2 separate regions of the Homo sapiens genome follow, and region 1 is linked to region 2. The links come from fine-mapping of genetic effects on plasma protein levels. A gene starts in region 2. The other region holds a variant in brackets. All regions are shown on one strand. Distances are from middle to middle.

What was found. A credible set is the group of variants that fine-mapping cannot tell apart. PIP is the chance, under the fine-mapping model, that this variant and not a neighbour inherited with it causes the effect. Protein levels are from antibody-based Olink assays in UK Biobank. Linkage for the fine-mapping came from a reference panel and not from the study's own genotypes, which makes the PIPs less certain.
Region 1: its variant is the best candidate, but not a certain one, in a credible set for the plasma level of the ART5 protein (UK Biobank, PIP 0.71).

Annotation. Positions count from the first base shown.
Region 1 is chr11:3,613,630-3,621,949 of GRCh38, reverse strand. It overlaps the pseudogene XNDC1CP. Among named protein-coding and RNA genes, the nearest start is that of ART5, 24 kb to the left of the region's middle. RefSeq lists enhancers at 5,365-5,889, 5,890-6,414. The variant C/T (reference allele first, on the strand shown) is at 4,439.
Region 2 is chr11:3,636,558-3,644,874 of GRCh38, reverse strand. ART5 (ADP-ribosyltransferase 5) reads left to right here and starts at 2,883. Exons shown (of 4, transcript NM_053017.5): 1 at 2,883-3,069; 2 at 4,504-5,233; 3 at 5,840-5,872; 4 at 6,082-6,363. The coding sequence starts at 3,013. The coding sequence ends at 6,137. It also overlaps the pseudogene TRPC2. RefSeq lists a silencer at 2,274-2,323 and an enhancer at 2,463-3,176.

The DNA.
Region 1 (8,320 bases), 23 kb after region 2:
TCTCCCCATTCCTCACCTGCTCAGCAGGAACAGGGCTTTTCTTCATGATAACCCCAGTGCCAGGCACCATGCTTGGCTCACAGTTGGGTCTCAAGGACATATTGGTTGGATGAAGGGCTCCCATAGAATTTGTAGCTGGGGTGGGCCTCTCTTTAGGCGAGTATAGGGCTGTTAGTAGGATTAAGGTTTTGGAGGCAGAGAGACTTCGGTTTAAATCCTCACTCCACTATTTCCTGTGTACTTTTGACAAAAAGAGCATTGCCCTTCCCTGTGCCTCAGGTTGCTCCCCTGTACCACTGAAGCAGAATGCCTTCCTCAGGGCTACACTTGCAGCTACTTAATGGAAACATTCACACAAAGTTATATTCACCAAGTGTCTAGCCCAGGGCCTCATAAAACAAGTGCTCAATAAGTGACAGTTATCATTAATCTTATTCTTAGTACCTGGGACTTTGGTGTCAGCCAGTAGCCAAGGCAGAGGAAGGGCATGGTGAGGAAGATGAGGAAGGTAGCAAAGAGCTTCCAGCTGGTGGTGCTTCCCCGCCAACCAGCCAGGTTCCCACACTAGATGGAGGACAGGACTTGCTGGCAGATGAGGTGTGCTACGAACTAAGCAGAGATGGGGCATAAGCAGAGTGGGAGGCCACCAGGCAAGGATGAGGATGGGGGAGCCAGTTGGGTACACAGCCCTTCCTTCCCTGCCACAGAGGTCGAACAATCCTTCTTTTCTCCCCACACCAGCCAACTCGCTTGTCAGATGACCGTGGTCAGACCCATCTCTCTCTAGGCCTCGGTCTATGGAGGGGAAACTGAACTCAAAGATTTTCCTGAACTCTCTGGACCCTACATTCTTGAGTCTAAGTTAATCAGTGGTGGGTAGAACTGGGGACCCAAGACCCAGAACCCCCAGGGTCCCCTGCCTTCTTAGAGGTGTGGGACATCAGCCTGGATGATCTTGAGGAGGGCAGAAGAGGGAAGCTGGGGTTTGCTGTACTGGGAGACAGGGCCAGGGGAGCCATTATGAAGGAAGGTTTTTGGTTAAGTTCCTGGTGGATGTTGAGGGTGGATGAGAGTGAGGAGCAAGGAGCTGGGGGAGGCTAAACAAGGAGCCTGTCTTTAGCTTAGAGGGGAGGATGTCTGAGGAGACAGGGAATAATAGAACCTTTTGGGGGATATTTAAGGCCTGAGAGATCTAGTCTTATCTTGCTTTATAGAGTGATGTACTGAAACTGAACAACAGAAAGACTGGATTGAAGTAACTCAGCAGGTCAGAGACAAAGCTGTCTAAGACCAGATGTCCTGGTCTGAAGGTGAGGTCTTGGTGGGTAATGGGTCTTCCAAGGGCTGGGGAGAGGTTAGGGGCTTAGATTGAATGTAAGAAGGGAGGGGACCCACAGGGTCAAGGGCTTAGACAGAAGGGTGCTCAGGACCAAGGCCTGAGAGGGTCTCGAGGGCAGGAAAAGGAGTTGCTTAGGGCTGGTCAGGGAGACCTAGAGGTGGCAGGGCAAGAGAAAAGGACAGGGAGGGGATATAGGTGGGGCCCAGCTGACCCGCTTCTGGTTGTAGTTGACAGCCAGTCGCAGCCTCACCAGGTTGGGGATGCCTTCCTCAAAGGCCAGGCCCAGGCCTTCAGCCTCGGGCTCAGTCTCGCTGTCCTCGGCCAGGTCGTTGAGCACTGCAGTGACCTCACTCTGGTTCCAGCACATGCCCAGCAGCTGAAAGCCATAGTCCTGGCTCAGTGACTCCAGAGCAATGTACTCAGGCTGTAGAGAAGCAGGTCCGTGTATGCCTACCACCCTGTGGATCCAACCCCATTAAATCAGCCCACTCCTTCCTACCCACACGCCCACCAGTAGTGGGCCTGGGCCACCTCTGTCCTGCCCCTGCACCATCAGTTCCTATGTCTGGTGTCACTAGGGCATTGATTTCTTTTTCCTTTGCCACCTCACCCATCCTTCTTTGTTTTTTTGTTTTTTTTGAGACGGAGTCTCGCTCTGTCGCCCAGGCTGGAGTGCAGTGCTGCAATCTCAGCTCACTGCAAACTCCGCCTCCCGGGTTCAAGCCATTCTCCTTGCCTCAGCCTCCTGAGTAGCTGGGACTACAGGTGCCCGCCACATGCCCGGCTAATTTTTTTGTATTTTTAGTAGAGACGGGTTTTCACCATGTTAGCCAGGATGGTCTCAATCTCCTGACCTCATGATCCGCCCGCCTCGGCCTCCCAAAGTGCTGGGATCACAAGCGTGAGCCACCGCACCCGGCCTCATCCTTCCTGCTCTAATGAGATACCTCCTGGGTCACTTCGCTTATCTAGTGCTATTGCTACCTCATCACTAAGTCACTTCAACCCAAACCCTTCTGTCATTTTTTCTGTCTCTTTTCCTTCCCCTTCTAATCTGTTTCTTGTCCCACTTTTACTTCTACTCCTTACACCCTTCATGTGCTCATTTAATTAATTTATTGGAACACCTACCTTATATGAGAACCTGCGTTGGCAATTTTAGGAGATGCAGAAATGAATAAGGCAGTTCTTATTAATTATTATTATTATTATTATTTGAGACGAGTTTCACTCTTGTCACCCAGGCTGGAGTGCAATTGCGCGATCTTGGCTCACTGCAACCTCCGCCTCCTGGGTTCAAGCGATTCTCCTGCCTCAGCCTCCTGAGTAGGGGAGATTAAAGGTGTGCGCCACCATGCTCAGCTAATAATTTTTTTGTATTATTAGTATAGATGGGGTTTCACCATGTTGGCCAGGCTAGGCTAGTCTGGAACTCCTGACCTTAGGTGATCCACCTGCCTCAGCCTCCCAAAGTACTGGGATTATAGGCGTGAGCCACCGCGCCCGGCCACTTATTTATTATTTTTAAAAAATAGCTGGGCATGGTGGCTCATGCCTGTAATCCCAGCACTTTGGGAGGCTGAGGCGGGCAGATCACCTAAGGTCAGGAGTTCAAGACCAGCCTGGCTAACATGGTGAAACCTTGTCTCTACTAATAACACAAAAATTAGCTGGGCGTGGTGGCAGGCATGTAATCCCAGCTACTCGGGAGGCTGAGGCAGGACAATCGTTTGAACCCAGGAGGTAGAGGTTGCAGTGAGCTGAGATGGCGCCACTGCACTCTAGCCTGGGTAACAAGAGTGAAACTCTGTCTCCAAAAAATTAAAAAAATAAATAAATAGAGATGAGATTTTGCTATGTTGCCCAGGCTGGTCTCGAACTCCTGGCCTCCTCATCCTCCTGTCTCAGCCTCCCAAAGTGCTGGGGTTAGAGGCGTGAGTCACTGTGCCTGGCCTAAGGCGGTCCTTGGCTCCAATTTATCCATCCTATCCTGGGTTTTACTTGAGGCCCTCACCCTAGAGAGCATCCAGGGACAGCTTTCAGGAGGTGAGGTCTGAGTCCCAGCACTGTCCTCAGGTGGTATCACATTGGGCAAGGTACTTCCCCTTCCCAGGCCTCAGCTTCTCTGCTGTAAAGTGGGGATGATACTTCCTGCTATGCCTGTCTCTTAGGCTGCTGTGAGAACGGAGGGAAAGTCCTTTGGAAAGGACTGCCCTTTCCTGCTAGCTGTGCAGTGGGGGCTTTTCATTCTCCTATCCTTCCACCACCATCAGTCACAACTTCCTTAGCCCTCCATTTTAACATCCATGTTGGTTTCCCCACCTAATGGTCATCTTGGGGATGGGGATCGAGTCTAGCTTGACACACAGGAGCCGTCAGGGGATGAGGGATGGACAAACTGGACTGGCGGCATTCCAGGACCCTCACTAGTACCTGCCTCCAGGTTCTGCTTCGTGCATTCTCAGTCCTTCCTGCGCAGTGTCTCCCCTTCACTCATCACCGTGTATACTTCCTGAGAGCCTTTGCGTGGACTGCAGTCCTACCTCAAATACCCTCCCTGCTCCTCTTCACTTGTATGAAACCACCCACTTCTGTAGCTCAGCTTAATGCTACGTCTTCCAAGGAGTCCTCCCTGAACACAACAGCTATGGCTTTCCTGACCTGTTTTCTGGGCTTTGGAAGCCCTGTTAGCACCATTCACAGCGGCACCGAATGAAGACAAGCGTCCTGGAAGCACCTTGTCCCCTCTTTCTGCCTTCTCTCTGCTCTGATCATACGCTTGAGAGCCGCAACACACAATGCTCCGGGTGGGAACACCTAATAGGTATTCAGACGTAATGTATTCTACTGAACGTCATCTCTAAGTCTGTCCAGCTGTTTTTCTAGTTGTTTCTGTTCTCTCTCCTCCCTCAGAGACACTCAGGGCTCCCCTGGAGTGGGGGTTGTGCCTCCCGCATAAGACTAGGCCCCTCTGGAGTGGCTGTTCTCTGCCATTAGAATGAAATCCCCTCAGGGGGGATTCTGTGACTCCCCATCAAACTAGAGGTTTCCTGAGAACAGAGACCAGGCCTTGTCCTCTTTCTGTGGCTTCCAAGCTTT[C/T]CAGAACACTGACCACAGGCCCAACCATGCTCCGGTGGAAGAACAGACATGGGGCACCAGGGGAAGAGAGAAGTATGAGAAACCAACCTTAAATTCAGGCTCCTTGCGTGCAAGGCGCCTGAGCTCACGGCTAAGCTGGAAGGCAGCCAGCATGGCATCCTCACTGGCCAGTGAGAGGTGGGCCCTGCTGGCGATGCCAAGGTAGGTGTTGATGCGGGACAGAGAGAGTTTCAGCAGGTCATAGCGGCGGGCGTTGCTGCACTCGAGGCAGGCACAGGAGACCGGGTGGGGCCGGGCAATGGTGTGGCCCTGTTCCATGAGCAGCTGTGCTATCTCATACAGGTCCTTCTGGCAGGCCTGGGGGAGGGGAGTCACACCAGGTGCAAAGCGGGAGCCATCAATTGATGAGTCAAAGAAAGCCAGTGAGAAAGACCTGGTGTCTACTTTGCGACCCTTCTCCCGTTCCAGCCGGGCCGGCAGGCGACGCACCACTGCTGCTGGTTTGTGTCCACTGCCACTAGCAGGGCCTCATGGATCTGGCGGAAGTCAAACTTGACACTGGCCAACAGCACATCGGTGAGGGCCTCATGGCCCAGGCGGATGGCCAGGTTGAGTGCCTCCCTCCAGCAGCGGTCCTCAGCCTCTTCCACATTCCACAGGGGCCAGCCTGGCCCACTGCTCGCTTGTGGCCTCAACCTCTGACTCCAGCAGCTGCTGCACAAAGCCCAGTCGGCCCTCCTGGATGGCATCCAGGAGTGGAGGTGGGAAGCTGAGCTTCCTGTTCACGATCTCAGTCCAGTTAGGCTGTTGGCGGACGAAGGAGTGGAGAGGCTAGGACCCTGAGTTTCAACTCCCTTTGTTTTGGGGCCTCTTTCACCCTTCCATGTTCTAGCACTTAACCCTCTATATCCAGCCACCATTATATTCTTCCTTGTCCCAAACACACACTGGCAAATATTGTCTCATTCACCATTTTATTGTGTAGATTCTCAGGTTAGGAAAATTGACACTGTACAGTGGGGGCTTTCTATTCTTCCCCCACTGGGTAGAGACTGGGGGCCCCTTCCTCAGGTGGGTCTGACCGGGGGCCCCTTCCTCAGCTTGACTTCTACCCTCACAGGAGCCCCCCAACAGCAGAGCTACCTGTGGGTACCTTGAGCAAGGGTAGGTTAAAGCAGGGGTGGGCTGCCCTGGCAGCCTAACCCCACATACGGGTGCACAGGATCTGTTCCGACCCAGCTCCCCTCTTGTTGACTTCATCTCCCAGCTGCTCTTCCCTCTTAAAGTCCTAGAGCCTCTCCCACAGGCAGGCCCGGACATGTCCACACAGGAGGGTTTTGTGTGGGCTTTTGCCAAGCCCCTCCGCTCTGACCAGGGCCCCAGCAGGATCCCAACATACTCTTTCTTCACCAATCCTCCCGCTTTGCCCTCCCCTGCTTTGGGGGGCATTTCTCCCCCTTGGCACTGCCTCATCCCTCTCTTCTACCAGGCCCGGCCCCATCCTCACTGCTCTTCTCTTCTGGGCCCAAGCTCAGGGTTCCAAGGGCTCTTCTCCCACCTACATAGTGATGTCAGCCATCTGCTTGGCAGCTAGGATGCCCCTGCAGTGCCTCTGGGCCAATCTTTTCTTTTATTCATGGGTAGAAATGGGAGCAGAATGGGAGAAGGTAGGGGAGCAGGCTTCTTACCGTGATGGGGTCCATGGCTGTGCCCACCTATGCTGGCACCTGTGCTGACAGGAACCGAAGGACTGAACTCCTGCTCAGTCTTCTCCCTGACTGTGCCTAGCACCCTCTTTTCTATCTATTCAAAACTCTGACCTGGGCCCTCTCTTTGCAGGACCAGCTGCTCCCCCTCTGCTCTGTACCCTGGGGACCAGGGGAACCGGTGTTAGTGCCACACAGTGAAATCTTCTGGGAAAGGGAAGAGAAGACATATTTGCTCAAAGAAGGTGGGAACAGAATTTGGAATATCACAGCTTGAGGGAATCTTTGACACCTTCTGGTCCAATCACCTCCTTGTGTAGATAAGGAATGGGATATGCCCAAGGTTCCACAGTCAAGCCTAGTAACTACTCCTTAGTCATTAACCCATCTGGTCCCTATCATAGCTCTGTGAGCGGGAGGATGGGAGATTTTTTTCTCTCAGTTAATTCTGGATGCTAAAATAAATAACTTGCTTAGTGTCACACACATCACCATTACCTGATTATGCCCAGGACAGGAGCCCACAAAGGAGACTGAGAGCTCGGTTCATGGGTTGCTGGATGTCAGCCTCGTGCTCAAAATCCACACGCACATTCCCAGCACACCACAGGATTTTATCTGTCAGGCAGCGTTTGCTCTTCACTGGGCCTCGGTTTTCCTTTCAGGAAAATGGGCATGAGAATGTGCACCACTCACAGAGGGAAAGACATTCTGGATGGTGTCCCAAGGCCCAAAAGTTCCAAGGAGACTTCCAAGGGGGAAAAGAACAGAGCTGGCCTTAGGAGAATCAGGTGCCATGGTCACAGAAGCCTTGACAACTGGGAATGGGGATCAGGCTAGGCACAGAGGTGCCCTCAGGCAGAGTCCTGAGGGAATGAGTGGAGAGGAGGAGAGAGGGAGCTTTGGCCTCAGCGGCTCTTCTCAGCTGTCAAGCGATTCAGTCCCAGTCTGTCACAGAGGGTGGGGCAAAACCACAGGACCTCATGGCTCACGCCTGAGGGAAGTCCCCACATATGCTGGCATGCTCTTCTACTTCTCTTGCTGAGAACCGCAACTGGCAGATAGGGCACGGAACCCAGGAGACAGGGGGTGAACTTTCTGGGGAGGACACCCACAGTACAGACTGGGACGAAGATGATGATGAGGAGGGAGAAGCTGGGTGAGGTGGGGAGGTCTCTCCACAAGTGGCAGCATGCTGGGGAAGAATCTCAATCCTGAAGGAACCTATGGGGGAGAGAAGGAGGTAAACAAAACGGCCTGCTCCCAGGCAGGATGTCACCCCAAGAAGTCTGTATAAGCTGTGAAGACAAATAACACTGATACACAGCAGACAGTGAGAAGTGCTAAGTCCAAGGGAATCAGATAATCCTGCAGAAGCTCAGTTGCGGGAGATGATCTGGGCAGATAAGAGAACACTTGGCAAAGTAGAACCGTTTGAACAGAGACTGAAAGAGGAACCAGCATTTGGACACGTAGGAAAAAGTTACGAAGGAAATTCTAGGCCCTCTCCGATCGTGTTTTACATTGCTTGGTTTCATTCTTCTCCTGAGGGCAGGGCCCATGTCCCTTCCTCAGCTTAGCTGGCACACTGTGCTCAGTACACACTTGTCTTGAATTACACTTGACTAAAAATACAGTTCCACACCTGAGAGCTGCAGAGATGACAGAAGCCAGCACTCCAAATTCAAATGTTTCTTGGCAGTACCCCCAGATCTCCTATTCCTCCCTCAAGGAATGCCTAGTTGTCATACAACAACTCCCTGTGCCCAAGCATCTTACCTGCACAAATCGGGCACTGTCCACTATCCTGGCCACCACTGCTTTGGGCCTGGGGTCGGTGCTGTTTTTTTTTTGCCATGCTCTTGCTGTCTCCCTCCTGTTTGGCCAAGAATTAGAGTTGGATAAAGGCCTGTGAGAAAGAACAGTTAAAGACCAGCTATTAGTAAGAGGCCATAAGGGCTGAAGGAGCCTGAAATCAGAGCAAAAATAATGTAGAAGAGTTAACATAGACCTAGAAACCCTGGGTTGGGGTCCTGGTTTTCCCACCTGATATACCAGACTTGAGGGAAGACATTTAACCTTTGAACATCTGAGAACAGAGATTCTATTACTGCCCTTGGGTTATTATTTTTTAATTGAAATATAGTACACATACCATAAAACTCACTCTTTAAAA
Region 2 (8,317 bases):
AGACAGCCAGACAGCCCAGCGCCACACCCTGGGCCTGGCAGTTAAAGATTGACCCCTGACCTAATCGGTTATTTGTATAAAAAAGCACTGTGAAGATCCCTGTCCTGTTCTGTTCCCTTCTAATTACCGGTGTATGCATCCCCCAGTCACGTACCCGCTGCTTGCTCAATCGATCACGACGCTCTCACGCGGACCCCCTTAGAGTTGTGAGCCCTTAAAAGGGATAGGAATTGCTCACTCAGGGAGCTCAGCTCTTGAGACAGGAGTCTTGCCGATGCTCCCAGCTGAATAAACCCCTTCCTTCTTTAACTCAGCATCTGAGGGGTTTTGTCTGAGGCTCTTCCTGCTACATTTCCCACAAAAAAGGGAATCCCTGAAGCCAGAGAGGAGGTGGACTGAAGCACTGGGGATCCAGGCTGGGACAACTGCCTCCTCACTGGCTGTGGTCCTGTACTCTGGTCAGCCAAGGAGGAGGAAGAGAGGAGGAAGCTTCAGCACCCCGACCTCAGAGAGCGTCTCCTTAGATTTTGTACCTTTCACACAAACACTGAGACTTAGCTAAGGTGCCAGGAGAGATTCGAACTAAGGAGGCTGTATTCTGAGTCCCAGTTCCAGCTCTGACTTACCAGTGATCTTGCAGGACTTCTTAATGCTATACTTAGGATCCCTGCCCAATGACTAGTTTTTTTTTTTAGATGGAGTCTCGCTCTGTCACCAGGCTGGAGTGCAGTGGCGCAATCTTGGCTCACTGTAACCTCTGCCTCTCGGGTTCAAGCGATTCTCCTGCCTCAGCCTCCTGAATAGCTGGGACTACAGGCGCCTGCCACCACGCCCAGCTAATTTTTGTATTTTTAGTAGAGATGGGGTTTCACCATGTTGGCCAGGATGGTCTCGATCTCTTGACCTCGTGATCCGCCTGCCTCGGCCTCCCAAAGTGCTGGGATTACAGGTGTGAGCCACCGCACCCGGCCCCCAATGACTAGATTTGAATCCATCTCTTGGGGCCTTATTTTGGGTTCCAGGTCCTGGGATGGGAGAAGCAATCCCCCAAAGCCAGAGGGTGGAGAGGGACAAAGCAGTGATTCCAATACATCTGGTCTCGGGTCATCCCAGCAGGCCAAGCTGTCCTCAGGTGGTATCTTTTCAAGCAACTGCAAACACTCAACTTCCTCCAGAGAGTGGGCAGGCAGGATATATAGGCAAATGCTGTTTTTCACCATGATGGGAAACGGTAGGATGATTCCTTATTTTAGAATCTGGGAGGGCTTTGGGATGGCTAGACTCATAGAAGGGGGCAAAAGAACTTGTCCTGGAGCTGTTTTTCTTTCTTTCTTTCTTTTTTCTTTTTTTTTTTTTTTGAGATGGAGTTTCGCCCTTTTGCCCAGGCTGGAGTGCAGTGGCTCCATCTCAGCTCACTGCAATCTCCACCTTCCGGTTTCAGGCGATTCTCCTGCCTCAGCCACCCAAGTAGCTGGGATTACAGGCCCCTGCCACCACGCCCGGCTAATCTTTGTTGGCCAGGCTGGTCCCGAACTCCTGACCTCGTGATCCTCCCACTTCAGCCTCCCAAAGTGCTGGGATTACAGGCGGGAGCCACTGCGCCCTGCCCTGGAGCTGTTTTTCTAACAAGCACTCAGAAGCACCTCCCTCCCCACCCTCCTCCAAGCCTGGACCCACCGTATGTCTTCCCGTTTGGTCTACAGAAAGGATTCTGGGAGATAGCAGGATTCTAGGTGGAGGAAACTTTTTATTTGGCTGACACTCTGAGGGGATGGGGGGACAGGGATGGGGAAAATTAATGAGCCAGACCAGGATGGATTCCTTTGGGTAGCTCTAATCTTTCGTGCCCACCTCAGCCCCAGCAGGCAGCATTTCTCAAATCCTAGCTTTCGGCGACCCTCCGGCCGCTGGGGGAAGGAGGGGTGACAACCCCACCTCCTCCTGGCTCTGGCTGCTAGGAAGCTCTTCCCTGAGTTACCAATTCCTCCGCTGGCCCCTTCTCCCATGACCTCTGACGGGGCATCCAAAACTCAGAGCCAGGTTATTTATAGATAAGCCCAGAGGAGGTGGGGGAAAGGCCAGTGTTTACAAACATGGGTCACCTGAGTCTGAGCGGCCACGAGAGCGGTCTGGGGGAGGGGCGAGACCGGACCCTGTGGATCTGCGACCAAGGGCTCTGTCTCTGGCCCAACCCCACTGAAGGCGAATGGGGAGAGGGCCCAGAGCAGGCAGGGAGTGGGCGCTGCTCAGATGCTGGAGCACGTGGCCCAGGGTGTGGGCCAAATGCAAACTGTATGCAAATCGCAGTGCTCCGGGGGCGACCTCTCGGCCGGCGGGACCCCCGCGGGGCCCCTGGCCTGGTGGGCCGGGGACCAGGGGCCGACCGGGTCAGGGCCCGCCTGAGGGAGAGGCCGAGTCTCACAAGTTTCCTCCCCATCACTCACAGCCAAAGAGGGTCCCGCAGAAAGACCCCGCAGGCCTTGAGAAAGGGAATTGCTCCTCAGTCCCTGCCCTGGCGCGCCCGCTCCCGGCCCCGCGTGCGGCGCTGGGAAAGGGGTGTCGGGTTACCAGCGCGGGGGCTACAGTTAGCCTCGAGAACCTTTGCTTTCAGCCGGACTCCGGACTCCTCCGGGGACAGCGCAGCGCCCGCCAGAGCCCTCGGCGCTCCCTCCCGCTGGCGGCTTCCGCAGCCTTCAAGTGGGTCCTCCGCCCCCGGCCCTCCCCTCTCAGGCGGAGCCAAACTGCGGCCCCGCCTTTACAGTCTCGGAAAGGTCCCCAGACTGGAGGCTCTGAGGAAGGGGTGTGGGGAGTCGGGGGCGGAGACTTGGGGCGGGGGGCGGGCAATAAACTCCCAGGCCCCGCCCACGCCCCGCCGGGGCCCTAATCCTGGACCCGGGATCCCGTGCGCCTGGAGACAGGGTCCAGATCTGCCTCCAGCCCCTCGAAACCAGGACTCCAGCACCTCTGGTCCCGCCCTCACCCGGACCCCTGGCCCTCACGTCTCCTCCAGGGATGGCGCTGGCGGCTTTGATGATCGCCCTCGGCAGCCTCGGCCTCCACACCTGGCAGGTAACTCCAGGAACCATCTCCTAGCCCCAAGGGGGACATTAAGGGACAGACCCTGAGGAAGTGGACCCGGGGCTGACTCCTCACATCCCTCTCCCAGGGACTCTTCCCTAGGATTCCACTCTTAACTCTCTTCCTCTCAGGAACCTCCATCTCTGCAGGGAGCCCCAAGTTCCCATTCTGTCTCCTAGAACCCCCATCTCCATCCCTCTCTGGATGCCTCCAACGTTCTCCTCCCCACCTCTCATCTCCCAGCGCAGGCACAGCCCGGCAAAGCCTCCTTGGGTTACCTGTGTGCTGCAGTCCTGGCAGCCCGTCCCAACCAAGGCTTGGCCTCCCCACCACCCCTACCCCAAATGTGGGTACAGAGCAGGGGAGGACTCAGGCGTCTCAGAGCTCACAGTGATTTGGTGTGGTGGCTGAGCACCTACCTGCAAGGGCTTCCTGCTGGATGAGAGGGAAAGAGAGCCCGAGGAGAATGGGGCTGGGGGTTAGGCAGCTGGACACTGGCTGTGTGTAATATTTGCACATCACCTGCCTGCCAGATCTTACAGCCGGAAAAGTGCTTGATAGTCATCTAGTCCCACCTCCCACCGACTGCAAGAACCTTTCTAATGACAGGATGACCCCTTTTAGGTTGTACAGAAGTAATGCTCTTTATGCTGTCTTCATAATAACTGTGAGGTTGGAAGTATCCTCAAGTCCAGAAAAGTTATGACACTTGCCCAAGGCCTCACAGCTAATAGGTGGTAAAGTCAAGATTTCAGCCTGCGCGCGGTGGCTCACTCCTGTAATCCCAGCACTTTGGGAGGCTGAGGCTGGTGGATCACTTGAGGTCAGGAGTTCGAGACCAGCCTGACCAACATGGTGAAACCCTGTCTCTACTAAAAATACAAAAAATTAGCTGGGCGTGGTATTGCGCACCTGTAATCCTAGCTACTTGGGAGGCTGAGAGAGGAGAATTGCTTGAACCCGGGAGGCAGAGGTTGCAGTGAGCCAAGATCGTGCCATTGTACTCCGGCCTGGGCAACAGAGCGAGACTTCGTCTCAAAGAAACAAACACAAAAACAAATTAGCCAGGCATGGTGGCATGCACAGGTAATCCCAGTTAGTTGGGAGGCTGAGGTGGGAGAATCACTCCAACCTGGGAGGTGGCGCTTGCAGTGAGCCGAGATCTCACCACTGCACTCCAGCCTGGGCAACAGAGCAAGACTCCATCAAAAAAAAAAAAAAAAAAAAAAGATTTCAGTCCATGTCTGACTGACTCCAGTGCCTGTGTTATTTAAGCCTCTTATTGGGCCCTTGCCAAATTGCATATACCTGATATTTAGGGATAGAAATGAGATTCTGTGTTTCTGGATGGGTTTGCCCCCAGGACCCATGTCCAGTGCTCTGAACTTATGCTCTTTTCGGTGTGGCACCTCTTTTGCTCCACAGGCCCAGGCTGTTCCCATCCTGCCCCTGGGCCTGGCTCCAGACACCTTTGACGATACCTATGTGGGTTGTGCAGAGGAGATGGAGGAGAAGGCAGCCCCCCTGCTAAAGGAGGAAATGGCCCACCATGCCCTGCTGCGGGAATCCTGGGAGGCAGCCCAGGAGACCTGGGAGGACAAGCGTCGAGGGCTTACCTTGCCCCCTGGCTTCAAAGCCCAGAATGGAATAGCCATTATGGTCTACACCAACTCATCGAACACCTTGTACTGGGAGTTGAATCAGGCCGTGCGGACGGGCGGAGGCTCCCGGGAGCTCTACATGAGGCACTTTCCCTTCAAGGCCCTGCATTTCTACCTGATCCGGGCCCTGCAGCTGCTGCGAGGCAGTGGGGGCTGCAGCAGGGGACCTGGGGAGGTGGTGTTCCGAGGTGTGGGCAGCCTTCGCTTTGAACCCAAGAGGCTGGGAGACTCTGTCCGCTTGGGCCAGTTTGCCTCCAGCTCCCTGGATAAGGCAGTGGCCCACAGATTTGGTAATGCCACCCTCTTCTCTCTAACAACTTGCTTTGGGGCCCCTATACAGGCCTTCTCTGTCTTTCCCAAGGAGCGCGAGGTGCTGATTCCCCCCCATGAAGTCTTTTTGGTTACCAGATTCTCTCAGGATGGAGCCCAGAGCTTGGTGACTCTCTGGAGCTATAATCAGACCTGTAGCCATTTTAACTGCGCCTATCTGGGTGGTAAGCTGTGCATGGGGGAAGCAGGACTGGCAGTGTGGGTGAAATAAGCCAGGATGTCCTTACACAATAATCCCCGGGGCCTTCGGGAGACCCACTTGGTTAAAGGGGAAATGAGGGCTGGAAGTCAGCTGGAGTTGCTGTCCTCTGTGACTCAGGTTTTTTGGGGTCCTATAAGTGTTTTCTAGATTCGTGAACATTCTTAGATGATTCTATATGTCCTCAAAAGGGTCCATCTGCTACATGGTCTAATAGACCAAAAGAACCTGGTTAAGGAGATTAGCAAGCAGCAGAAAGAGCCAAGGGGACTGCTTCAGGTCTCAGGGGGGCCCTGGGCTCGATGGGGCTGACAGGGCACGTATGTGCCATTCCCAAGTGCTAAGGCAGGGAGAGATGGAAGAGTGACTGGGTCTTGGGTGGGAAGAGGGATGGAAAGGCAATCTGGAAAGAGTTCCTGGAGGACGGAGGAGGAAGGGAAATCAGAAGTTTCCCTTTAGGTGAAGGGAAAGATAGATTGAGAAGGGAAATGGCCCTGCCAGGGCCTGGTGGGCCAGGCAGTTTGGGTGCGAGTCTGTCCACGCGGAGGCCTCACCCTGCTGTCTGTTGCAGGGGAGAAGAGGCGGGGCTGTGTGTCTGCGCCAGGTGAGTTGCCCTTCCATCCTCCTTCAGCTGCTTTGACTCCCCCTCACCCTGCTGACCCCTTCCTCCTCTTTTCCCTTCAGCAGGGGTGCAGCTAGGGTCACAATCTGAGGGGGCCTCCTCTCTGCCCCCCTGGAAGACTCTGCTCTTGGCCCCTGGAGAGTTCCAGCTCTCAGGGGTTGGGCCCTGAAAGTCCAACATCTGCCACTTAGGAGCCCTGGGAACGGGTGACCTTCATATGACGAAGAGGCACCTCCAGCAGCCTTGAGAAGCAAGAACATGGTTCCGGACCCAGCCCTAGCAGCCTTCTCCCCAACCAGGATGTTGGCCTGGGGAGGCCACAGCAGGGCTGAGGGAACTCTGCTATGTGATGGGGACTTCCTGGGACAAGCAAGGAAAGTACTGAGGCAGCCACTTGATTGAACGGTGTTGCAATGTGGAGACATGGAGTTTTATTGAGGTAGCTACGTGATTAAATGGTATTGCAGTGTGGAGACATGGAATTTTATGATTGGTTTATTCCATGAGACTAGACCTTCTGCCCCGCTGTGGCCTTGCTGGGCTGAGGGACTGACTGAGGGACTAAAAAAAAAAACTTCTTGGGGCCAGGAGCAGGTGGCTCACGCCTGTAATCCCAGCACTTTGGGAGGCTGAGGTGGGTGGATCACGAGGTCAGGAGATCGAGACCAGTCTGGCTAACACGGTGAAACCCCGTCTTTACTAAAAATACAAAAAAATTAGCCGAGCGTGGTGGCGGGCACCTGTAGTCCCAGCTACTTGGGAGGCTGAGGCAGGAGAATGATGTGAACCCGGGAGGCGGAGCTTGCAATGAGCCGAGATCGCGCCACTGCACTCCAGCCTGGGCGACAGAGCAAGACTCCGTCTCAAAAATAACAATAATAATAACTTCTTGTTATTATTAACACGGTCTCCTGTGCAGACCTGTGTAACACTCTAACTTGCAAATCCAGAAGCTAGAACAGCTAGAGGGTCCTCACGACAACCATGAAGGCAGGAAAGCAGGCAGGTGATTCCTCAGCCCCACTTGTCAGGTGAGGAATGCAAAGCCAAGGAAGGAAGCAACTGGTCAGAGGGTTCCCATTGAACCCCGGCCTCCCGCCTCCCCGGTCTCCTGCCTCCTGGTCCAGAACTCTGTCCATAAAAGATCTGAGGAAACTCAAAGTAGGATCCCAAGCCCAAGATACTTGGGAACACAGAGCAAGTCATTTCTCTCTGCCCTGCTCCCACAAGGGTCCATTTCAGGGGAAAGAAGAGGGAGGACCTCAAAACATCAAGAGACAGAGATTCTCACACAGCCTGGAGGCCTCTCACATCCAGAGCAGAAACTTTATTGAAGCAAGAAAAGCAGCACAGGCTCCTCCCAAGGGGCCCCCCACCCTCACCCTCCTAGGCTACCACGCTCAGCAACAGAAGAAGGGACTCTTCCACTGTATCAGGACCTCCTCTCAGTCCCCGAATCCTCCCCCTGGGGCAGGTCCCCAGCCCCCTCTGCTTCCTGCTCCCTATGAACTAGCACATGAGCTGGGGAGCAGGGGCCAGACTCTCCGGAAGCCAGAGTCCTCACCCCTCCAGTGTCCTGAAGCCCGGTTCCTGATGATTCCTGGGTCCTCACAATCCCAGGCCCTGTCAGCTCTGGGGTCTCAGGGATGGGAGGCCCCAGGTTCTGGAAGCTGTTGTGCACTTGAGTGATGTAGTGACTGAGGACGCTGGCACCGTCGGGAGGCCGGGGCGTCCCTCCCTCTGCCAGAGTTCACCGCACACCGGCTACCTCGCTTTGCAGTCGAGATATGGTCTTGGTCAGCTCTGTGAGTCTGTTGCCCAGATCTGGAGGAGGTGGAGTACCAAGGGGCCTTTCAGAGGATGAGCCTGCCCTATACCCCTTTTACCCTTTACAGTACCCCAGGGGTTGCCCTATCCAGGATTCCTGAGGGAGAACTGGAAGAAGTGAGGAACGGGTTTGTGGGCTAGGGGTCAGGTGGGTGGGTGAAGCTGGGGCAGGTGAATCTGATCGGGGGTGGGAGGGAGTAGCTGAGGAGCTGGAAAGAAGGAAAGTCTGGGGGCCAGAGAAAGATGACAAGCCACGGGGAAAGCTTACTGGACTGCGTAGACATTTGTGCGTTCACCTGCCTGCCCTCTCCCGAGTCTACGGCCAGCCAGCTCACCCCATCCTTCAGGGCCCAGTTCAGATCCCACCCCCTTTGTCCCTTCTGCTACTCTATCCTTCTGCCTTCTCATGAGCCTCTCAAAATGACGTGCTCCTTCTCCCTTCAGGCGCCCATGGCAATTCGCGTCTCTCTTAGCTGCACTTCATGCCCGCTGTGATGGTTTCTCTTCCTCACCAGACTGAAAGCTTCCCGTGTGTCCCTGCCCTACAGTGCCCCGTCTCTCCCTCCAAGACAGGGCCTGGAACAAAGGAGGCCATAGTGA